Linked DNA regions of Homo sapiens. The protein of the gene in region 2 interacts with the protein of the main gene of each other region in a pairwise test. Each region holds a gene or a part of one and is shown on either strand. Other genes may lie near its edges.

The links.
Region 1: the proteins of RUSC1 (region 2) and SUOX interact in binary tests that used the Homo sapiens proteins (3 or more experiments, as listed by UniProt).
Region 3: the proteins of RUSC1 (region 2) and PRDM14 interact in binary tests that used the Homo sapiens proteins (3 or more experiments, as listed by UniProt).

Annotation. Positions count from the first base shown.
Region 1 is NC_000012.12:55,992,360-56,000,279, reverse strand, and holds the start of SUOX (sulfite oxidase, mitochondrial), read right to left. Parts: upstream 3,005-7,920; 5' UTR 2,941-3,004; intron 2,666-2,940; 5' UTR 2,557-2,665; intron 948-2,556; exon of another isoform or gene 822-947; intron 1-821. UniProt on the Homo sapiens protein: Catalyzes the oxidation of sulfite to sulfate, the terminal reaction in the oxidative degradation of sulfur-containing amino acids.
Region 2 is NC_000001.11:155,316,586-155,323,893, forward strand, and holds the start of RUSC1 (AP-4 complex accessory subunit RUSC1), read left to right. Parts: upstream 1-4,308; 5' UTR 4,309-4,406; exon of another isoform or gene 4,407-5,102; 5' UTR 5,103-5,188; coding exon 5,189-6,545; intron 6,546-6,816; coding exon of another isoform or gene 6,817-7,227; exon of another isoform or gene 7,228-7,260; intron 7,261-7,308. Other genes in the region: FDPS (farnesyl pyrophosphate synthase), read left to right, coding at 1,356-1,436, 1,584-1,706, 2,080-2,168, 2,271-2,343, 3,026-3,103, 3,209-3,343, 3,824-4,024. UniProt on the Homo sapiens protein: Associates with the adapter-like complex 4 (AP-4) and may therefore play a role in vesicular trafficking of proteins at the trans-Golgi network. Signaling adapter which plays a role in neuronal differentiation.
Region 3 is NC_000008.11:70,068,249-70,076,244, forward strand, and holds the start of PRDM14 (PR domain zinc finger protein 14), read right to left. Parts: upstream 3,005-7,996; 5' UTR 2,902-3,004; intron 1,637-2,901; 5' UTR 1,613-1,636; coding exon 913-1,612; intron 285-912; coding exon 231-284; intron 140-230; coding exon 1-139. UniProt on the Homo sapiens protein: Transcription factor that has both positive and negative roles on transcription. Required for the maintenance of embryonic stem cell identity and the reacquisition of pluripotency in somatic cells.

The sequences.
Region 1 (7,920 bases), on a different chromosome or scaffold from region 2:
CTCGGGACCTGCAGCCCGCCATGCCTGAGCCCCCCTTCGCCGTGGGCTCCTGTGGGGCCTAAGCCTCCCCGAGGAGCACCGACCCCTGCTCCACGGCACCCAGTCCCATCAACCACCCAAGGGCTGAGGAGTGCGGGCGCATGGCACCGAGACTGGCAGGCAGCTCCACCTGCAGCACCAGTGCGGGATCCACTGGGTGAAGCCAGCTGGGCTCCTGAGTCTGGTGGGGAGGTGGAGAACCTTCATGTCTAGCTCAGGGATTGTAAATACACCTATCAGCACCCTGTGTCTAGCTCAGGGTTTGTGAATGCACCAATCAACACTCTGTATCTAGCTACTCTGGTGGGGCCTTGGAGAACCTTTATGTCTAGCTCAGGGATTGTGAATACACCAATCAACACTCTGTATCTAGCTAATCTGGTGGGGATGTGGAGAACCTTTGTGTCTAGCTCAGGGATTGTAAACGCACCAATCAGCACCCTGTCAAAACAGACCACTCGGCTCTACCAATCAGCAGGATGTGGGTGGCACCAGATAAGAGAACAAAAGCAGGCTGCCCAAGCCAGCAGTGGCAACCCGCTTGGGTCCCTTTCCACACGGTGGAAGCTTTGTTCTTTCCCTCTTTACAATGAATCTTGCTGCTGCTCACTCTTCGGGTCCACACTGCCTTTATGAGCTGTAACATTCACTGTGAAGGTCTGCAGCTTCACTCCTGAGCCAGCAAGAGCACGAACCCACCAGAAGGAAGAAACTCCAAACACATCTGAACATCAGAAGGAACAAACTCCGGACACGCTGCCTTTAAGAACTGTAACACTCACTGCGAGGGTCCGCGGCTTCATTCTTGAAGTCAGTGAGACCAAGAACCCACCAATTCCGGACACACTAGCACTTTGGGAGACCTACACAGGAGGACTGCTAGAGGCCAGGAGTTGGAGACTCCGTCCCTACAAAATAAAAAGTTAGTTGGGCATGGTGGAGCGCACCTGTGGTCCCATCTACTCTGGAGGCTGAGAAGATCTAAGCCCAGGAGTTTGAGGTTACAGAGTGAGCTGACTGTGCCACTGCACTTCAGCTTGGGCAACAGAGAGCGAGACCCTGTCTCAAAACAAAAACAAAAAAAAGTTATATGAATGTGGTCTCTCTCTCAAAATATACTTTTTTTTGGCCAGTCATGGTGGCTCATGCCTATAATCCCAAAATTTTGGGAGGCCAAGGAAGGAGGATCACTTGACTCCAGGAGTTCAAGACCAGCTTGGGCAACATAGTGAGACTGTGTCTCTAGAAAAAAAAAAACAAATTAACTGGGCATGGTGGTGCCTGTCTGTAGTCTCAGCTACCGGGGTGGTGGGGAGAGGAGTGCTGAGATGAGAGGATGGCTTGAGTCCAGGAGGTCGAGACTGCAATGAATTATGATGGCGCCACCGTACTCCAGCCTGGGCAACAGGGCAAGACCTTGTCTCAAAAAAAAAAAAAGCCTGGGCGATGGAGCAAGTGTCGATCATGGCTCACTGAAGCTTCAACCTCTTGGGCTCAAGCCATCCTCCTGCCTTAGCCTCCCCAGCAGCTGGGACTACAAGTGTGTGTCACCAAGCCTGGCTAATTTTTCTGTAGACATGGGAGTCTATGTTGTCAGGGCTGGTCTTGAACTCCTGGCCTCTTGCTGCCTTAGCCCCCAAAGTGCTGGGATTACAGGCATGAGCCACTGTCCGGCTTCCCCTCCCCTCCCCCTGCCCCTGACAGGGTCTTGCTCTGCCCAGGCTGGAGTGCAGTGGCGTGATCTCAGCTCACTATAGCATCAAACTTCTGGGCTCAAGCCATCCTCCTGCCTCAACCTCCTGAGTAGCGGGGACCACAGGCGTGTGCCACCATGCATGGTCTTTTTTTTTTTTTTTTTGTAGAGATGAGGTCTTACTATGTTGCCCAGGCTGGTCTCAAACTCCTGGGTTCAAGTGATCCTTCAAACTTGGTCTCACAAAGTCCTGGGATTATTACAGGCATGAGCCACCACTCCCAGCCTCAAAATATCTTATTGTACTGTGTTCAACTATTTTCCAAGCGGTTGACCATAGCTAACTGAAACTCAGGAAAAGGAAACTTTGGATAAGGGGAGACTGCTGTAATAACATTGTCTTTGAAGGCTTTTCAGTCCCCAACTCTCCCTCCATTCACCCTAAAAAAAATTGAACCCAGCTGGGAACTGGACCCCAACCTAGGGTCCCGGACCACCTCAATCTTCTCTGTGCCACTGTAGTGAGCTCAGCAAATTGAGGAGTTAATGGCCAGAGTGTCAGGGGCAGGCTGGAGAAGGAAGGTAATTTTTCTGCTCTCTGCCCTGCAAGTTTCTTCCTCAAATTGCTGAACAGAGAGCACTGACCCAGCAGGGCCAAAGTGAGGAGGGGTGACAAATGTCTAAACTGCTGATGAGATGCTGGAGACCAATGTGCTGGGGTGGGTGGGTCGTGGGTAGGGAGGAAAGGAAACCTAGAGATGGGAATAGGAGCAGTCTTCACCTTGCCCCTGGGCCATGGGACCATTACTCTCTCTGCCACCTACCTCAATGCCAGCAGCCTGTTTGTACTAGACCAGAGCAGTGCAGGTAGGGCTGACTCGCAGGTGAACTCAGTGAGCCCAGAATCCCAGGTTTGGGAGGGACAGCCTTTTGCTGTAATACAGAAATGCCACCCGTTGGTGCAGGTGATGACCCCTCACTCCCCATGGGCACGTTAGGTAGGAACATACGTCCGGCATCCAGGCACAAAAGGGTCTTGCGGCAACACCCCGCGATCTCAAGAGCACCCAGACAGAAGGAGTGGAGGCAGGTACTGATAGTTTTGTTGCCCTTGAGGTTCGGAGCACAGCTGGACACCAAGGCCCCCTCCGCTGCCCAGCTCAGCAGCCCTTCCTCCCCAGCTTCTTTACCACCCCCAGTCTCCTTACCGGGTCCAGTGTCTTCAGCACTGCAATTTTACCAGCCCAGCTCTGCGAGTTCTCGAGAAGGGGCGGGGCCAGCGCCGTTATGTCCGGCTGCAGTAAGTGACCTCTCACTCCCCTCAGCTTATCCCTCAGCCATTGGCTGGAAGCGGGTGGCTCAACCATTGGCTGGAACCCGCCTCCTGGAGCCGAGACAGGCAGGTTGCTAAGAAGCCTGGGAGAAGAGGCTGGCTCTTTTTGCTGTCACTCTCGCCAACAGTCCGGAGTCCATTATACCCCTGGTGTGCAAAGAATGGGACCCTTGTGCACCAGGGCTGTATGTCCGGAGCTCGGGCAGTGTGGAAGGTGACAAGGAATCCAAAAGTTGGGCTGACAGGTGGGAGATTTTGAGACACCCCTGCCGCCCCTCCCTGGAGGAGGCCTCGGGATCCAGTCCGGTTTTCCCCGGCTGTGATCTCCACTTTAAACCCAGGGTAGACCTACCTCTATCTACTCTGTTGCAACTACAACTACCCTGTTTATCTTTTAGGGAAAGCAAAGTCAATCGCTTAGTTCTCGTATTCCAGGAATGATAACAGAAATGCCTAAAATAGTGGTTCCAAGAATTTGAGATTCCTTGGGCTAGTCGAATTTCTCCCCAAACAAAAATGAAACAACAACACTGAATAGCCGTCTTTTATTTTGCGTAGAAAAAAAAAATAATAATCGCCCCTTGGTGGCACACGCCTGTAGTCCCAGTACTCGGGAGGCTGAGGCGGGAGGATCGCTTAAGCCCAGGAGTTCGAGGTTGCACTGAGCCAAGATCGCGGCACTGCACTCCAGCCTGGACAACAGAGCAAGACCCCATCTCTTAAAAAACAAACTGCCCCTTAACAAGAGCAATGGCAGCTTAACACCCCGAAGTATGAAGGTTGTAGTCTCTTATCTCAAAGTAAGGGGCATAAATATAATACATTTCCTATTACCCTTTTGTCATTTGATGCAGGACAAAATTTATCAAACCTAGTCCCCCAATCTGGACAAATGTATCCATACACTGCCCTCTAGAGGCCGGACGGTGGAGCTGCAATTTTAATCAGTTTAAGTGAAGGTGTTCACCTTTAATTTTGAAAGATCATTTCCTTTCCTTTCGGCTCTCCAACTAGAGCTTTTACCAGGAATCAGGGAACGGGGGTGGGGGGTATTACCAAGAGATATAAGGTAAGGGAACCGACAGTGAAAAGTTGGCAAGTTGGCTTTGGCTCTTAAGTGTTTGGAAATGGAAAGGATTTCAATCTGTATACAATCAAATCACTGAAGAAGGCTAATGCCCAACCTATCCTACCAGTTGTTAAAAAAAAAATATATATATATATATATATGTATATATATATGGAGAGAGAGAGAGTGAGAGAGAGAGAGAGAGGGAGAAAGAGGGAGAGAGAGAGAAAGCGAGCTTCAACCTAAAAAAAAAAAAGTCTCAGCCAAAGGAAGATACAGAGAAGTCAGTTAGGGACTATCTAAAAGCCTCCTTCCTAATAGTGTCATCTACTTTTGTGTGACACACATACTTTACATAATTGACCTTAATCTTCAGCTTTTACTTTACAGATGAAGAAACGAGGCGGAAGGCACTAACTAACTTGATCAAGGCCACAGCTGGTTAAGTTGACAGAGACAGGCCTAGAATGTCAGATTTGTCTGGCACCAGTCCTCTTTCCTATCCACCTTCAGATTCTTTGGAATTTAAAGCCTACTGCAACCACACATAATCCTATTTCATTTCCCTTCCCTCGACCTTTAGACTGTGGTGGACTGAAGGGTTTGAAGTACACTAGGAGTCAAGAGCAGATCCAGAGGAAATTTTCCCGTTGAGGTGGAAGCTACAAGAAAACTAACTCAGTGATGTTTTTCAACCTTTGGGTCATGGACCCCTTTGAGAAACATATAGAAATGGATCCTAGAAATATGCACATACGGCCGGGCGCAGTGGCTCACGCCCGTAATCCCAGCACTTTGGGAGGCCAAGGTGGGTGGATCACGAGGTCAGGAGTTCAAGACCAGCCTGACCAACATGGTGAAACCCCGTCTCTACTAAAAATACAAAAATTAGCTGGGTGTGTTGGTGCGTGCCTGTAATCCTAGCTACTCAGGAGGCTGAGGCAGGAGAATCACTTGAACTCAGGAGGCGGAGATTGCTGTGAGCCAAGATCGTGCCACTGTACTCCAGGCTAGCGACAGAGACTCCGTCTCAATTAAAAAAAAAAAAAGAAATATGCACATACATTTTTGTATACTACTTCAAATAGCACCCCTCTCTCTAATCTGATCAGTGGGCCCAAAGATCCACAGACCATACCCTACACATATACATTCTGTTAAGAGGGCCTAAAAAGATATAATAGGGTTTGATTTGATGAACAATCTAGTGGCCTTAGAAGAGGGGTGATTAAATAGCAATAGAAGGGCTATTTTCTAAACTAGATGTTTAAGAAAAGATTAAAGGGAATAAAGATGTATCAAGATGCAGGGAAAGGTGTGTTTCTGATTCAGTAGAACATTACTGGGTATCCTTTCTTCCAAATTCCTAGTACCTGACAAATAGCAAAAATAATAATAATAATAACAATAAAATAAAAAAAAGCAACACTCCAATGCCCTTTTCTTTTTTTCCTTTTTTTACTTACATTAAATACATCGGTAAATCAGCAGTCGCATTCTGTTACCACGATTGTTATGTTGGGAGAGGAAGAAAGGCAAATGCTTTCTCAGAAGCAAAACAAAAACAAAAAACCACAACACCCCCCCTTAAAAAAACTGACCAGAAGAAAAAAATGAGCTGGGAAATAAACAAAAGAAAACTAAGATCCCCAAGCCCAACAGAGCTCAAAGGAAGGCAGAAGAGGTGGTAGGAAGTAGAGGGAAGGCAGCCGATAGGCCCAGAAGCTAAGGCCAAATCCTGTTCCTATGGGGGTGGGGGGAGGGAGAAGCCTGGGGAAGTGGTTTCCCAGGCCCAAGATAATGAAACATCTTCACTCCTGCTCCAAGGGGGAAAGCTGCACAGAGAAAGAACTTCATTTCTAGAAGACTTTGGAAAGCCATCCTAGTTCTTCCACTTGTAAAAAGGATGCACTGGGTGCTATGGGGGGCCAGTGGCTTCTGGGAAAGGAAGGGGGAAATGTGTGTGTTTCAGGGCCATGGGAACTAAGGCTGCCCCTGGAAAAGGAAGGGAATTGAGGCCTAAGTGGAAGAACCTAAGCTGGGTCCTTCAGAATCTCAGCTTCATAGATTTCTCAGCTGTTCTGGGATAGAAGGCAGTCTGCAAGCCAAAAGGGCAGGAAGGTTCCAATCCTAGGTCACTGTGACCTTTCCTTTCTTTCTTTCCCAAAACTCCGGGCTGGAACAAGGAACTTAAAGTTCTCTTTTGCCTTGATGGCTTCTCAGAGACATCTTAAAACACCTGATGAAGGATATGAAGAGAGACTAGAGATTTAGAAAGGACCAAGGTCCTCTGATAATATGAGCCAGTTGTAAGGTACCTTCAGTGCCGGTCATTCCCTCTCCACAGGAACAGGTGGTATGATACGAGGGCACCACAGGAGGCCTCTGTGGTACTAGCCCCTATTGGTACATGGATTAAACCACTGGTTGCATGATGGGGAGGGATGGGGGGATTAAGGATGGAGGGACTAAATTCAAGATATTAACAAAGGAACAAAGAAACAGGGCCTGATGGGAGGCAGAGGATAGAACAGACTGTACAGTGGGAATAAAGATCATACCTATTTACAAGGAAGTAGAAAAGACATGGTAATGGATATCAAATTGAGTGTGAAACCTGGGAAAGGACAGAAAACTCCTCCCTTTTGCCTGACCTCCTTTTTACTCCCCTACCTTGGCCTGTGCTATCCTGAGACACTCCTCAATTGCTCAATTAATTCTCCAGGAAAGGCAAACCTATAGTCAATAGTTAGCTTGGCAAGAATATAGGTTAATAATTAGAGTTGGAGGAAGCTAACAGTGGAGATAGGACTTGAGTAGCTGCCACTGGTAGTTTTATCTATAACCTCTCCTCGAACCTCGCATTAACCTCAGATTTCATTGAATTAAAAAGAAGGTGGGAGGGCAAGTAAATCAATCAAAACTTCCATAAAACAAGTACCCCAACTGAACTACCATCAATTAAAGTGCAAACTGCAGGGGTATATGGTGGCTGGGGCTGAGGCCATCTAAAGGCCAGAGGGGAAAAAATGCATATGTATAAATCAGAGGATGGGTACCAGAAACTGTCCCTCCTCCAATCAGATCACAGCAGAGCCAAAGATGCAGGCAACCAGTGAAAATTCTTTGGAAGACTCTGGGGTCCAACCCCCACGATTAGGGGAAACGCTACCTAAGAGGCTGCGTGAGGGGAAACTGGGCCTTTGAAGAGTTACAGAGCCACAGTTGACACTGCACCTCCACCTCCGCCCAGTTAGCTTACAAGGCACCTCCTGCCTGGTGCCTGAGATCTTGCCTCCCCATTCTCACCTCTACCTAGGAACACCCTCCACAAGGCCAAATCATGGATACCGCAATGTTTTCAAATATGAGAAACTCCAACCAAATAAAAACAAAAAGGAAATGTTTCCTTACTCCCTCCTGCTCTGAGCTTTATTCTCCCCCAGGGCCCTTAATGTAAATGAACTGGAAACCTCCTTCCTCAGTTCCTGGGTTCACCACTTTCTGCATCCTGGGGAGAGGAGAAAAGAGGCTCAAGAACAGGGACTGACCAAAAGCAGAAGGGGAAGGGACAGGAGTCAGAAGTGTTTTCTGAAAAAATGGGGAGGAACACTAGGGAGGAGGAGAAAAGATACGTAAGTCGCTGTCTTGTACCTATAATACAAAGTGAAGAAAGTTTGTTTTGGAAGGTAAGTCCTGGGGGGAGTTGACCCCCAAGCCCCAGAGTAGGGGGTAGGAGGCCAGTGGCAACAGCTGCCTGGTGTTTGTTGCTGAAGCGTTAAAAAG
Region 2 (7,308 bases):
TGGCCAACATGGCAAAACCCAGTCTCTACTGAATGAAAATACAAAAATTAGCTGGCCTAGCAGTTGGTGGTGGCAGGTGCCTGTAGTCCCAGCTACTTGGGAGGCTGAGGCAGGAGAATCGCTTGAATTTGGGAGGCGGAGGTTACAGTGAACCCACATGGCGCCACTGCACTCCAGCTTGGGTGATAGAGTGAGACTCTATCTCAAAAAAAAAAAAAAAGAAAAGCTATTTAAGGAACCAAAACATAGTTTGACTGACTGCAAGAAGTATCACAGGGAATGTTAGAGTGTTTTATTAATTTCTTTGTCAGACAAGTGTTTAGGAAACTCTCACTCCAGGCCTAATGCTGTGCTAGGCTCTGCAAATGCTAAGAGGGGGAAGTTACTGTCCCTGCTTCCAAGGAGATCATGGTCTAGTGGGAAACCCGACACGTTCAGGTACCTTCAGATGGGCACTCAGAAGAGTAAGCCCTTAGTTAATGTTTAAAGATGTTTAAAGATGTCTGAGACTCATAGGTCAAAGTCAGATTTCAGTTCCACCTTATTAGACCTGCACTGCTAAGGAGCTGCTTTAGGTAAGGCTGTGTTCCTAGTCACCAGGGTGTTCAAACACAGTGCTGGGGGCAATGTGGGAATAGCCTTCTTTTATTTAGGAAGTAATGTGAAGTCAGTTTCATGAATAGATCTTACTTTAAGCATTCATTGAGGTTTTTGGCAAGAATAGAGTACGGTATATGAAGGTGTTTCCTAATCTCCCTGACACCAGGAATAATCTAGGGCTCATTAGAGATGTCAAAGATCTGTTCTAGTTTCTTAACCTAAAACAAGAGTGTTTTAGTTCCATTTTATAGGCGGGGAGTCTGAGCCAAACATGTTATGTCACTTTCCAAGTCTCCATAGCACAGAAGTCTTCTGTCTCCCCATCCTGACTTTCCCAGCTCATAGGGACTGTCAAAGGCAGCAGCTCTGGCCGGCTGTGATGCCTCATGCCTGTAATCCCAGTAATTTGGGAGGCTGAGGCAGGAGGATCATTTGAACCCAGGGGTTCAAAACCAGCCTGAGCAACATAGTGGGACCCTGTCTCTACAAAAAATAAATTAAAAAAAAAAAATAGCCAGGCATGGGGTATGTGCCTATGGTCTCAGGAACTCAGGAAGCTGAAGTGGGAGGATCACTTGAGCCTGGGAGTTAGAGGCTACAGTGAGCTGTGACTGCACCACTGCACTGGATAATAGTGAGACTCTGTCCCCTACCAAAAAAAAGCAAAACTATATACAGATATAAAGTAGCAGCTCTGTTGCTGATAGAAGGAACAGTAATGAGGAGCCCTGCAGGTCTTATTCCACTCTTTCTAGCTGCAAGCTTTCTTCCTGGTGGCAGATGACATCATGGATTCATCCCTTACCCGCCGGGGACAGATCTGCTGGTATCAGAAGGTAATGTGGGCAGGAAAATAGCAGTGGGTATGGGGACAGGCCACAGGGAGGTGGTTATATATGGCCTGGTTGAGGTGTTGGGGTGATGGCTCTTAGTATGAACCGAGACTAGAGATTGATTGCTTGTTTTTCTGTCTGTCATGACAGCCGGGCGTGGGTTTGGATGCCATCAATGATGCTAACCTCCTGGAAGCATGTATCTACCGCCTGCTGAAGCTCTATTGCCGGGAGCAGCCCTATTACCTGAACCTGATCGAGCTCTTCCTGCAGGTGTATTGCAGACAGGGCCCGATGCCCAGAGGGTGCCCATGGTAGCCTTGGCCTCTATAGGACATGCTCATCTAGCTGGTTTCAGGGTACAGGATTGCAGCGTGCCTGGAAGGGAAAGAAAGCGAGGAAGGGTGTTGGGAAGTGGGGTTGTGGTAGTGGCAAGAAAGGGCTTCTCTGTCCTGTGTAATTGGAAGAAAGGGTGATAAAGGACTGTGTGTATGAATATGGGCCTTAAGTTTTGGGGCTTTCTCCCCTTCTGTTGCCTTTCTGATTCTGCCCAGTTGTCAGCTGGTATGGGATGTTGGGCTTGGGATACCAGGGTTTCGCATATCTGGAGAAAGCCTGGCTCATGGACCGTCTTTGTCTTGCTTAGAGTTCCTATCAGACTGAGATTGGGCAGACCCTGGACCTCCTCACAGCCCCCCAGGGCAATGTGGATCTTGTCAGATTCACTGAAAAGAGGTGAGGGGAGGTGAGGGACAGCGCGAACCATGTCTGGACAGCGAGGGAGGGCTCAGGATGTGCATTGCCCTCCTGAGGAGTTTCTCTTCTCCCCTTACTCAGGTACAAATCTATTGTCAAGTACAAGACAGCTTTCTACTCCTTCTACCTTCCTATAGCTGCAGCCATGTACATGGTGAGTGAGCCTCCTCACCCCTCTCTGCTCTGCTGATGGGGGCTTTTGGACAGCAAGGCATAGAGCAGAAAACGTGAACACTGCTACCCCTGGTGAAAAACTGTGTGACCTTGAGCAAGTCGGTCTCGCTCAGTCTCTTTCCTCAGCTGGGGATAAAATTCCTACTTCACAGGACTGTAAAGATTAAGCAAGGCAAGGGATATGAAAGTGCTTAGCACATAATAGGGGAACAATATATCCTGTATCTGAGTATGGATAGGAGTGTGGAGATCATCCAGGTTGAGAGGGAGAAGAGTGGATTAAAGACAGTCAGTGGGATTAAGTGTCTACCCTGACCTTGCTTCTCTACATTTCCTTTTCATCTTGAAAGAAGTTGGAGGTGGCAAAAATATTAGGAAGGTGGATCAGAATGACTTGGGGACTGACATTTGTGAGGGAAGAGACAGGCTGTGCACCTCTAGAATGGATTCATCTCTTTTATGACTCCCAGGAAGGCCTAGCCAAAAATAAGTGGGATTGAGGTTGGACCATCAGTCAGGACTGTCTAGGTCAGGGAAGCCAAGATGTCTGAAGAGAGAGGAAAGATTTGGGGCTGCAGTAGGGCAAGACCCCATGGGAGGAAGCAGCCAGGAAGATGCCGGCACCCCTGGGGTTTGGCTTATTAACCCCCCTTTCCCTGCAGGCAGGAATTGATGGCGAGAAGGAGCACGCCAATGCCAAGAAGATCCTGCTGGAGATGGGGGAGTTCTTTCAGATTCAGGTAAGAAGGCAGGAGGCAGTAGCAGAGAACAGGCACCAGCTTCACTCCTCCTCTGCCCAGGAACCTCATCCTTCCTCTTTTGCTGCCCTCCCCCTCCCTGCCCAGGATGATTACCTTGACCTCTTTGGGGACCCCAGTGTGACCGGCAAAATTGGCACTGACATCCAGGACAACAAATGCAGCTGGCTGGTGGTTCAGTGTCTGCAACGGGCCACTCCAGAACAGTACCAGATCCTGAAGGTGCCTGAGAGAGGGTGGTGGGTCCCTGAGTTGGTGGAAAGGGATAGAGCAGTGGTTCTCAACTAGAGGCAGTTTTCCTCCCGAGGGGACATTTGGCAATGTCAGCAGACATTTTTTGCCATTGTCATTACAACTCTGTGTGTGTGCATGTGGTACAGACATCTAGTTGGCAGGAGCCAAAGATGTTGCCAAACATGTAGTACACAGAACAGCTCCCCCAGACAGGATTATCTGGTCCCAAATTTCAATAGTGCCAAGGTGGAGAAACCCTGGAGTAGAGGATGCCTGGTATGAGGCAATATTTGGGATAGGGAAGGGAAGCTTGGGATTTTAGCTACGTAGAGACACTTGAAAATTGGAGGGAGGAAAGGAGTGGGTGGCTTTGGAGATGTTCTGGAATATGTGAATGAGGGGAGTGGAGGGGTCCTGGAGGCTCTGGGGAAGGCCAAGCCCGTTTTCCTGTCTTTCAACCTCTTCCAGGAAAATTACGGGCAGAAGGAGGCTGAGAAAGTGGCCCGGGTGAAGGCGCTATATGAGGAGCTGGATCTGCCAGCAGTGTTCTTGCAATATGAGGAAGACAGTTACAGCCACATTATGGCTCTCATTGAACAGTACGCAGCACCCCTGCCCCCAGCCGTCTTTCTGGGGCTTGCGCGCAAAATCTACAAGCGGAGAAAGTGACCTAGAGATTGCAAGGGCGGGGAGAGGAGGCTCTCAATAAATAATCGTGTAACCTTCTTGTGGTTCTGTTCTTGCTCGGCCCAGCCAGAGTCTGGCTCTTTCCAGAATGTGCAGGGTGGGGTGCTGGGAGGACTCGCTGCACGGAACCAGGACCCAGGGGCCAAAAGCTTAGGATATATCAAACCCTCTAGGTGGGTGACAAAAGACGCTAAACGCTGGGGGCGGGTCTGAGCTACGCCACGCCCATGCGCGAAGGGGTGCAGCTGCGCAGCGCAGGGTAGGTTGTGCTAGTGCCCCTCCCCTCCCGCTCTGTGCCCCGCCGGGCGGGGACCGTGGGAGCCGCGGACAAGCCCAAGGCCGGAGCGGTTCCAGGAGGACCCTGGTGAGGAGGGCTCGGCCCATGGGTGTAGACCGATGGACCTGGGCACGAGGGGCGGGGCAGGACAAGGGAGCAGGAGAAATGAATAGAGAAAGGGTGCGGTGGTGGCTGAACGATGGAGACGAATGCGGAGAGAATGGACATACCGCTGTTCCGAGGGGCGAGGGCGCAGGCTGGAGCCCGGCCGAGGCAGCCAGCAGATGCGGAGTTGACAAGCTGACGGCTGCTCCATCCTTTTCCTCTCCAGCCCCCACCCCTTTCCTGCATTCACCAGACAAACTCTGCGTATTGCCCCACCCCCATCCTCCACCTCCTTTCAGGGCATCTGGGTGGGTCTCCCTGGGTCCCTTCCTCTGGGAGTAAGGGGTAGGCTGGAGGGCAGGGCCAGATTGCGGCAGCAGGGACCTGGAGGTCCATTCTGGGCCCGGACCTCTTCCAGGCCCCCGCCCCCCTTCGGAGATCCAGAGCGCAGCCGCGTTCTCTGACCCTCCCGGCTCCATTCCCGGGGGGTTACATTCGACTCCATCTGCAAACACTGCAGTGGAAACTAATGGTCAGTCGATTGCGATTTGCATCTCATTGAAATATCTTCCAAAGCAGCCAGAGCCTTCAGGCCTGCTGCTGCCGTCAAGTCACCTCGGTGTCCTTCCCCGCAGCTCTTGTCCTCACTGGCCGGGCTTCACCACCTCTGTCTTCTAGGTCTGCACCTGTGGTTGCCAGGTAGGTGGATGTGAGAGACCCTACCCTTCTGGTTCTCTAGAAGCCATCCCATCGCCGCTAGCATCATGCTGTCCCCTCAGAGAGCTTTACTCTGCAACCTCAACCACATCCACCTCCAGCACGTCTCCCTGGGCCTGCACTTGTCCCGCCGTCCTGAGCTACAGGAGGGGCCTTTGAGCACACCCCCTCCTCCAGGAGACACTGGGGGCAAGGAGAGCAGGGGCCCCTGCAGTGGCACCCTGGTGGACGCCAATTCCAACAGCCCAGCTGTGCCCTGCCGGTGCTGCCAGGAGCACGGTCCGGGCCTAGAAAACCGGCAGGACCCGTCACAGGAGGAAGAGGGGGCTGCCTCTCCCTCAGACCCAGGCTGCTCCTCCTCACTCAGCTCCTGCTCAGATCTTAGCCCCGATGAGTCCCCTGTCTCAGTCTACTTGCGGGACCTCCCTGGTGATGAGGATGCCCACCCTCAGCCCAGTATCATCCCCCTGGAGCAGGGCTCCCCACTGGCTTCAGCAGGCCCTGGCACCTGCTCACCGGACAGCTTCTGCTGCTCTCCTGATTCCTGCTCCGGAGCTTCTTCTTCACCCGATCCTGGCCTGGACTCGAACTGCAACGCCCTGACCACCTGCCAGGACGTCCCTTCCCCAGGCTTGGAGGAAGAGGACGAGAGGGCGGAGCAGGATCTCCCTACCTCTGAGCTCTTAGAGGCGGATGATGGGAAAATCGACGCTGGGAAAACGGAGCCCAGTTGGAAGATTAACCCAATTTGGAAAATTGACACAGAGAAAACTAAAGCTGAATGGAAAACCACTGAAAACAATAACACTGGTTGGAAAAACAACGGGAATGTTAACTCTAGCTGGAAAAGTGAACCTGAAAAATTCGACTCTGGTTGGAAAACCAACACAAGAATAACTGATTCTGGCTCGAAAACAGATGCAGGGAAAATTGATGGAGGATGGAGAAGTGACGTCAGCGAGGAGCCGGTGCCCCACCGGACAATCACGTCCTTCCACGAGCTGGCCCAGAAGCGCAAGCGGGGCCCAGGGCTGCCCCTTGTCCCGCAGGCGAAGAAAGATCGCAGTGACTGGCTCATAGTCTTCTCGCCCGACACCGAGCTCCCCCCCTCGGGGTCGCCGGGCGGCTCCTCGGCACCTCCTCGGGAAGTCACCACCTTCAAGGAACTCCGGTCCCGAAGCCGGGCCCCAGCCCCGCCAGTCCCGCCTCGAGACCCCCCAGTTGGCTGGGCTTTGGTCCCGCCCCGGCCCCCACCCCCGCCTGTCCCTCCCCGAAGGAAGAAGAACCGACCTGGACTGCAGCCCATAGCGGAGGGGCAGTCCGAGGAGGGCCGGGCTGTCAGCCCAGCGGCTGGCGAGGAGGCCCCAGCCGCGAAGGAGCCGGGCGCGCAGGCCGGCCTGGAGGGTAAGAGGTCGCAAGAAGCGGGAGGAGGGCTGGGCTTCGGCCGCTCACGCCTCCTAGGCTTCCAACCCGGCCCCCTGTCTTCCCTCCATTCTGTGTCACCCATCCTCCCCGCCCCTTCTACCAGGGAGCGCTCCGGGAAAGGGAAACTGGGTGGGTCATTGGGTTATGGGACTAACTGTTTGCTCCCTCTTCTTCCCGCCCCTTCTTGCCTGGCTGCCCATCCCGCTGCCCTCCTTCCCTCTGCGCCTGGCCCCGCCAATCCCGCCTGCAGCCGGTCCCCTCCTGCTCCCTCGGCCCCTGGTTTTCCGGTTCTCGGCCGACGGGCGCCCCCTGTTGGAGGGTGGGGGCGCAGGCGCAGCTGGGTCTCTGCTCCTGGCTCCTCTGGCCGGGTGGCCCGGCGCCGGGCTGCGGCTGCTGGGGGCGCCGAGCCCCCCAGAGGAGCAGCTGCTGCCCGTCCGCCTGTCCCCGGTGGGAGCCTATTCGCCTCCGACTCGGGGAGCCTTGCCCTGCCTGGCCAGCCCCGAGCTGGCACTGCTGCTGTCCCCGCTCTTTCCCAGAAGTAGCACCTTCCCCGCCGCGGCTCCCCCACCCCGCCAGGTACCCGCCCCCCCGCTGCCACCGCAACCTCGTCCGCCGAAGGCCCCTCGCTGGACCAGGAGCCCATCGCCTCCGCCCAGGCTACGTAAGACGGACCCGGGCTAGCCCCGCGGGCCACGCCTCAGGCGGGCCGCCCCGCCCACTCTCGCCCGGCCCCGTTTTCGCT
Region 3 (7,996 bases), on a different chromosome or scaffold from region 2:
TCTCCGTAGGTCTTCACTTCACTGGCATTGACCACTTTACCTTGAAAGGGCCCAAACCTGACTCCTTTGGCGATAAAACTACTGCAGAACACACCAAAATGTGGGACTTCACCAAACACCGTCTGCATGAGGCATAGACCTAGGGGAAAGCCGAGGCAGGAAAAGAGAATGAGGAGAGTTGACTCTGCATTAGTTCAGGGAAAGAAATCCATGCAAGGAGTCCTGCCTACCTTCTGGAAGTTGAAGGGAGTCTTTATCCAGAGTTTGAGGAAGAGAATCAGATCCTAGCAAAAGGCAGGTTAAAACAATTTTTCATTAAAAATGCATTATAAAGTGCTTTTATGAGGTGTTTCCCTCCTTAATTCCCTAAAGGTAACCATCATCCCAGTTTGATATTTATTTGTTGTTTCTATTTTTCCCTGCTCATTTTACATGGTCTGTTCATACACGATTTCACTGTAAACAATTCCATATACAATTTCTCATTTGAGACTCAGAACAGCCTCATGGAAGTTTATGTAATTAACCCCATTAGGCAAATTCAAGGAATTTGAGGATCAGAGGTAATGCCTGACTAAGGTCAGCGTAGCTAGCTGAGCTGGGACTGTTAGGTGTGAACTGCTGAAGGCTGTCATTGCATGTTAGCATAGAATCTGAACCTACCTGGGAGTTCGCTGCAGGAACCATTTCTCTCTTGGTCCTCAGCTCTCACTAAAACCAACCTTAGTCATGCAGTTAAGCAAGCAGGGCCTCAGAAGTGAGCCTAGAACAGCCCTGGCTCTCATGGAGGTACTTCCCCCTTCCCGCACTCTGCAGCCTCAGCTCCACCTGGAAGCGCCTCTTCCCGGACACTCCCGTTCCCGCCTGCATTCCCGTCCAATTCGACTCCCAAATGGTGTGAACTCCCTTTACCAGAGCTGTCTGGGGGGACCAGGAGGCCTGAAATCGCATGGTGCAGGCTGGCTGGGTGCTCCAGGCTGGGAGTGACCCCGTACAGAACGAAGTGCAGGTCCTCCTCCGTGAACTGGAACCGAGCAGGGGACTTCCCTTCTTGGTTGGAGGGTTTGGGACCATCCTCTGACTGCTTGCTGGGTGAGCAAGGTAATAACTGGGAGGTCCTCAGCCCCTCAGGTAACAGAGAAGCATCCGCAGGGGGCGGTGGAATTAAAGTGTCAGGTCCACAACACGGGCCACTCTCGTTGTCGCCACCAATGATTTGGTGGCCCAGATCTTCACTGCTGGCACCCGCGTACTCGTGGCTGCTGCTCAGGAAGGGCGGCACTTCCCTGGGGACGTGGGGAATTGGGTACCACGGTGGCAGCTTGCTGTACCAGGGCAGATCGTAGAGAGGCTCCCTCTGTAGGCCCAGACCCGGGCTCAGCAAGGGAGGCGCCATCCGGAAGGGGAAGGGGGGCATGGCGGGGGCAGCAGACGCTGCGGCCTCCAGCTGCCGGAAAGGTTGGAAGTCTTCCTCCACGGTGGCCAGGCTGTTTCTGTAGTGTCCATAGGACGGGAAAGGCGTGTAGTACGCGGCCAGGTTCTGCGGGCTGCTCTCCGGCGGGTAGCACACCTTGTCCTGAGGCACGGCCTCACTTGGCCGGGGTAGAGCCATCCCGGGACCGCACGCTCGGCGGCTCTGCAGAAAAGCGGGCGCCGCTGAGGACACCGCGCGGGAGCTTCCCGGGGTCCGACCCGCGCCTCCCCACCAGCCTCCTCCACCCCAGCCAGCCCCAGATCCAAGGGAACAGGATAAACGCCCCCAGTCCGATCCCGCCAGCCCGCTCCCACAATTAAGACAAAACGAAAAAACAGCAATAGAAGCAAACACAAAAAAGCCCCAAACGGAAATCTGCCGGGATCCTGCCCTACTCTAAATTCCGGGTTAGTGTTGCCTTCCCCTTCCCTCTCCAAGCACCCCTTCCCTAAGCCCGGCCGCCTTCCCACACCCGCTCTCCGCTTTCGGCCCCCAACCCGGTTCCTGCAAAACCCATTGAAGTTCCCTTTCCTTCCTTCTTCTCAGTCCTACAAAACTCGTTGGTAGGGTCTGTGGGAGCCGCGGGGCCCTGCCAACCTCGGGGCTGGGCCGGGAGCCGAGCGCAGGCGGTCGGAGGGCAATGGAGCAAGCGACAGCTCCAGGCGCTCCTGGGCCCTCGGCTGGGAGGGAAGAGCCGAGGACCCTGGGTCGCACCGCGCAGATGGAGACGCGCTCCCAGAGCCCCCGGGCAGGTCCAGGGACCCCGCGACCTGCTCTGGCCCAGCGGTGTGACCCCGCGGGTCCTGGCGGTCCTGACTGCCCGCAGGGGAGGGGCGCGCCACTTTTGGCTGCCCTAGGATGCGCCGCCTGAACCTCTTTTCCCTCGCGGGCAGCGTCCGCCACATTCCCCGGGTTCCTCGGAAACTCCAATCATTCTACCAGGACTATTGGGGCCTGGGGTAGCCCCTCGGGAGCCGCGTGGACGAGCCCTGGCCAGGTGGGAGCGAAGAGCCTCGGCGACTGCCAGTCCTCCCGCCCCCGCACCGCCGGGAAAGGATGGCGTTTTAATAGACAGGCAGCAAGTTCACCGAGGCTGAAGAATGAAGCCCCTTCAGGGCCGGCGGGTCTTGAGATCAATGAGCCCAATAAGAAAACCAAGCAGGGTCATGACTCAGAAATTAAAGAACACGGGGTCAGGAGAAGAGGTCAGCCACGACACAGGCAGCGGCCCGTCTCCTCCCGATCCTCCAAAGGCGCCCTTCTCCTAGCCTCCTCCGACCTCAGGGATCTGCAACTTGGGATTCAAAGCCCCCGAGAGGGCAGAACGACCATCCAAAACGAACTGCGCCAGCGAGTGCTGCCGCCCTCCCCAACGGCCCTGGAAGACCACCGCCCCGGGCCCCAGGCGCGTCCTGTCCCGTGCCTACCTCCGACACCACCTCCAAGAGCGCCACCGCGGAGCGGGCGCCTCCTGGACGCTGCGGGGCCACTCGGGCTCGGTAGGCCACTCGGGCTCGGTAGACTTCGGGCGGGCCCTGAGGGCTGAGCCAGGCTTAAGAGGGCGGGCGGGGCCGCGGGGCATCGACAGGTCGAGGGTAGGGAATTGACCCGGCCCACGCAGATCCCCGCGTCGTCTTCTCCCCGCCCACCGCAGCCATTGGCCGACTCTCGACTCGCCCTCTGTCCCCTGGGGTCGCTCACTTAACTCATCAGTTTTCCAAACCCTCCCTGGGACCCTAGTGGCGAGCACTCGCCGCTGGCCTTCTAGGGCAGGCAGTATTGCCGCTCCAGGCGTGCGGAGTCGGGGAGAAAAAAACCGAACACGTGTGCTACCCAGGGCCCCCAGATAAGCCCCTCCGCGCGCACACACACCCTGAACCGGAGTCCAGAAGGCCGGACTCGCGTCCCGGGGTCGAGCCCCTTACTCTCCGCTCCCAGTTCGGAAGATCCCAGCCTGCCCGAAGGCGGCGTCTGACCCGCTGGTGGACCTGGTGGGTGTCTGTTCCTGATACCTGGGGACGAGGCGGGAGCGCCTTGAGCGCTGGGAAGCTTCGCCTCGCGAGTCCCCGGCAGTGACACGTGGGAGCGTTGGGCCCGGCACCCCCGACGCTTCCGAGGTTTCGGGTGGTCGTTTTGCTCTCTCGGGGGCTTTTATTCCTTAAGTGGCTTTAAACGACCGAGGATGGGCCTCCCGCGCCGCCGCAGCTGTCACTTCCTTCGGGAAAGGCTAGCGACCTTGGACGCGCAGGCTCTGAAAACCAAGGTCCAGACCCATACCGAGCGCCCAAAGACCGCATTTGAATTCTCCTCGCCGGCCATTGAGGGAGAGAAAGGAACGCTTAGTTCCATTCACATTCACAGAAAGAAGCGCCGAGGGTGGGGGAAACGCAGTCTTGCCGGGTGAGCCGGGACAGGTTCCTCGCCTGCCCCCCGGCCGCTGCTTCCTCTTAGCTGAATGGGGAGCGACCCGCCCCGGGCGCGGCCTTCGGGGCTGAAGACTGAGGTGCAGCCTCACCCCCGGCCTGGCAGCGGCTTGGAAGAGAGAGGGAAAGGAGGAACATCTACCCGGCTAAGAGACGCCGCCAGAGTCCCTAAAGCTGGCGGGGGACGGAGGCCGGGGTCCCGGATCTTCAGAGCGCCCGCAGCCGGGCTTCTGGGCTCCTCGGTGCGGGGAACCTGACCCTGTAGCCTTCGCCAGGGCGCGGCGGGGCTGCAAGAAGGGAGGAAGGAGTGGGACTAGAGCCTTCGAGGGCGCGGGCGGCGTGCACTCAGCCTTGTCTCCCCGCGCGCCCTGCCGCCTGCTTGCCCCCTTTGCTGCACCGGGTGGCCCTGGTCCCCGCGCCCGCCCGCCCCCGACGCCTTCGCGTGGTTCCGCGCTGCCCGCGGCCAGCCCCGTTTCGCTTCGCAAGGAGCGTGTTGTTTTCTCAATCGAAATGGGATCAAGATCCCAGGGTTTCCTCGTCTCCTTGTTTTGAGGTGATAGGATCTTAGCCAATAGATCGAAAACGTGAAAAGTACCCGTCGCCTCTTGTCCCAAGTGCCTCTGTGGAAGGATCATTTACTTGGAAAAGCAGAATAAATTCTGTTGCCGTTTTCCTTCCGGAGGCGTGCTCACCCCAGAGCTCCTAGACCCACTGGCATTCGCTATACTTCCTCCTGGGCTTTACAGGTAGGATTTCAAGAATGATATGGGGGCACCTGGGTGATCTGTGGGTTGCAGGTCCTCAAGAGGCCGTTTTTTCGTGCACGGAAGTGTCGTAGCTTTATTTTAGCGGAAGCAATATCAAACCTTATCTTAGAGGTTTGTTTTGCAAAGAATCCAGAGTTTACTATATTTGACACTATTTTAAAATAACACTTGCTTGTTTTAAGAAGTTGGGAGAAATCGATAAAAGAAAAGTTGAAATCCATGCTTCCCATTTCTACTCTAGGAGATAATCCTGATCAACAGTTTGGTTTGCTCCCTACCCCCATTCCTTAAAAACAAACAAACAAACAAACAAACCAAAACCCACTATACTTTTAGATTGTGTAGGATTACGTAGGATTTTGTAAAAATAAAAATGGGATTATACTTCACTCGTTTCTGCAACGGCCTAGCTCCTACTAGTAATCATTCCCTATCAGTATAGTAGAATTAACCTTATTTTAGTATTATCATTATTATTTTGAGACAGGGTCTCACTTTGTCACCCAGGCTGGAGTACAGTGGCATGATCTTGGCTCATTGCAGCCTCTGCCTCCTGGGCTCAAGCTGTCCTCCCGTCTCACCACCCGGCCCCTTCCCCTCAACTAGCTGGGACTACAGTCATGCGCCACCAAGCCCGGCTAATTTTTGTATATTTTTGTGGAGACAGGTTTCACCATGTTGCCCAGGCTGATCTCAAACTACTGAACTCAAGGGATCCACCCACCTTGGCCTCCCAAATTGCTGGGATGGCAGACCTGAGCCACCACACCGGCAAATTTATTCTTTATAATGGTTGCGTGGTACAGAATTTCCATTTTATAGGTGTGCTCATAGTTTATCAGCCTCCTCTTGAAAGGTATTTAAGTTGTTGCCAGTTTTTCAATACTTCTGGCAGTGTACAGAAACACTGATACAGATACATAGTTGTGCTACTGTGCCTTGTAGAAGAAATATCCAGGTGTGAAGTTGCTGGATCAACAGGTATAAACACTGATCATTTAAACAAGTACTTCAAGACTGGGCGCAGTGGCTCACACCTGTAACCCCAGCACTTTGGGAGGTTTAAGTGGGTGGATCACTAGAGGTCAGGAGTTCAAGACCAGCCTGGCCAACATGGTGAAACCCCATCTCTACTAAAAATACGAACATTAGCCAAGCATGGTGGCACAAGCCTGTAATCCCAGTTACTCGGAGGGCTGAGGCAGGAGACTAGCTTGAATCCAGGAGGCAGAGGTTGCAGTGAGTCAAGATCACGCCACTGCACTCCAGCCTGGGTGACAGAGTGAGATTCTGCCTCAAAAAATACAAAATAAACAAGTACTTCAAACCATACCAATTTATACTTCCTCCAGCAGTGAGGGCAAGTGCCTATTTCTCCATGCTTCATCTAATACCGAATATTGCCATTCCTTTTTTTTTTTTTTGAGACAGGGTCTCACTCTGTCGCCCAGGCTACAGTGCACCTCAACTGCCCCAGCTCAAGCGATCCTCTCATCTCAGCCTGTCTAATTTTGTGTTTTTTGTAGAGACAGGGATTTCACCATGTTGCCCAGGCTGATGTCAAACTCCTAAGTTCAAGTGATCCACCTGCCTCAGCCTCCCAAAGTGCTGGGATTACAGACATGTGCCACCACGCCCGGCCTTAAATTTTTTTTTCTTTCATAGAGACAGGCCCTCACTCTGTCACTTAGTCTGGAATGCAGCAGCATGATTGCGGCTCACTACTGCCTCCAACTCCTGGGTTCAAGCAATTGTCCTGTGTCAGCCTCCCCAGGAGCTAGGACTACAGGTATGTGCCACCACACCCGCCTAACCTTTTAATTTTTGGTAGAGGCGGGGGTCTTGCTATATTGCCTAGGCTAGTCTCAAATTCCTTGTGTAAAGCCATCCTCCCACCTCAGCCTCCCAAAGTACTGGGATTACACGTGTGAGCTACCACACCTTGGGAGTATTGCCAATTCTTTAAAGCTGCCTGTCTTTCACATAAGAAGTAAAATCGTATTCTAATTGCCTTTTAGTCATTTACATAACAAAGTTTCTTTTGAATGCCTGCCTATTGATGAGCCAGTCAGCAAGCCAAGCATAGGGAATACAATTGTGAACAAAGCAGTCTTGATCCCCTTAAAAGCCTAATGAAGAAGGTCTGTATGTGTGTGAATACTTGATGAATGAGTCACTATGAACTGCAATAAGGAGGGAAGAAAGTGTAGTACAAGTAACGAGCCTCAGTCTAGGCTGGGAGTACAGGAGGGTTCTCCCAACCTATCAAATTGGAAAGATGTGTAGAAATGAACTTGGTGAAGGGGATGAGGACAAGTGGTACTCCAGGGCCACAGAACCCTTGGTGCTAAGGCCTTAAGCCTGGAGGAAGCTTGGCTGATTCACAGAACTGGTGCCAGGAGACAGCTTGAGGTTGGAATGTCAGCAGACACCAGGTCTTGCAGAGAACACTTGCTAAGATGTAAGTATCCTTACAGCTTTACTTCCAAGTATTCACCAAGAAGTAGTAAGAAGTCACTGCAGACATCAGCATACTTCATCACTAAAGAACTTCAGCATGCATATCATTAAATCAAATTCAGCATTTTGTTTATGGTTCTTTTTTTGAAAGGTAAAATTTACATATGATGAAATGCATGTATCTTGGCTGTACCATAAATTTTGACAGTTGATGGCTGGGTGCAGTGGCTTATACCTGTAATCCCAGCACTTTGAGATGCCGACGTAGGGAGGTCCCTTGAGTCCAGGAGTTGGAGACCAGCCTGGGCAACATGATGAAACTCTGTCTCTGCAAAAAAATACAAAAATTAGCTGGGCATGGTGGTGCATGCCTGTAATCCCAGCTACTCAGGAGGCTGAGGTGGGAGGATGGCTTCAGCCCAGGAGGTGGAGGTAACAGTGAGCCAAGGTGGCACCACTGCACTCCAGCCTGGGTGACAGAGTGAGGCCCTGCCTCAAAAAAAAAAAAAAAAAAAAGTATTGACTGGGTGCAGTGGCTCACACCTGTAATCCCAACACTTTGGGAGGCCGAGGTGGGTGGATCACTTGAGGTCAGGAGTTCAAGACCAGCCTGGGCAACATGGCAAAACACCATCTCTACAAAAAATAGAAAAATTAGCCATGTGTAGTGACATGCCAGTGGGAGGCTGAGGTGGGAGGCTGAGGTGGGAGGTTCACTTGAGCTGGAAAGGTGGAGGTTGCAGTGAGCTGTGATCGTGCCACTGCACTCCAGCCTGAGCTACAGAGCGAGAACTTGCCTCAAAAAAAAAAAAAAAAAGAAGAAAGGAAAAACATTTTGACAGTTGTATAAACAAGTGTAGCCTCAATCCCTA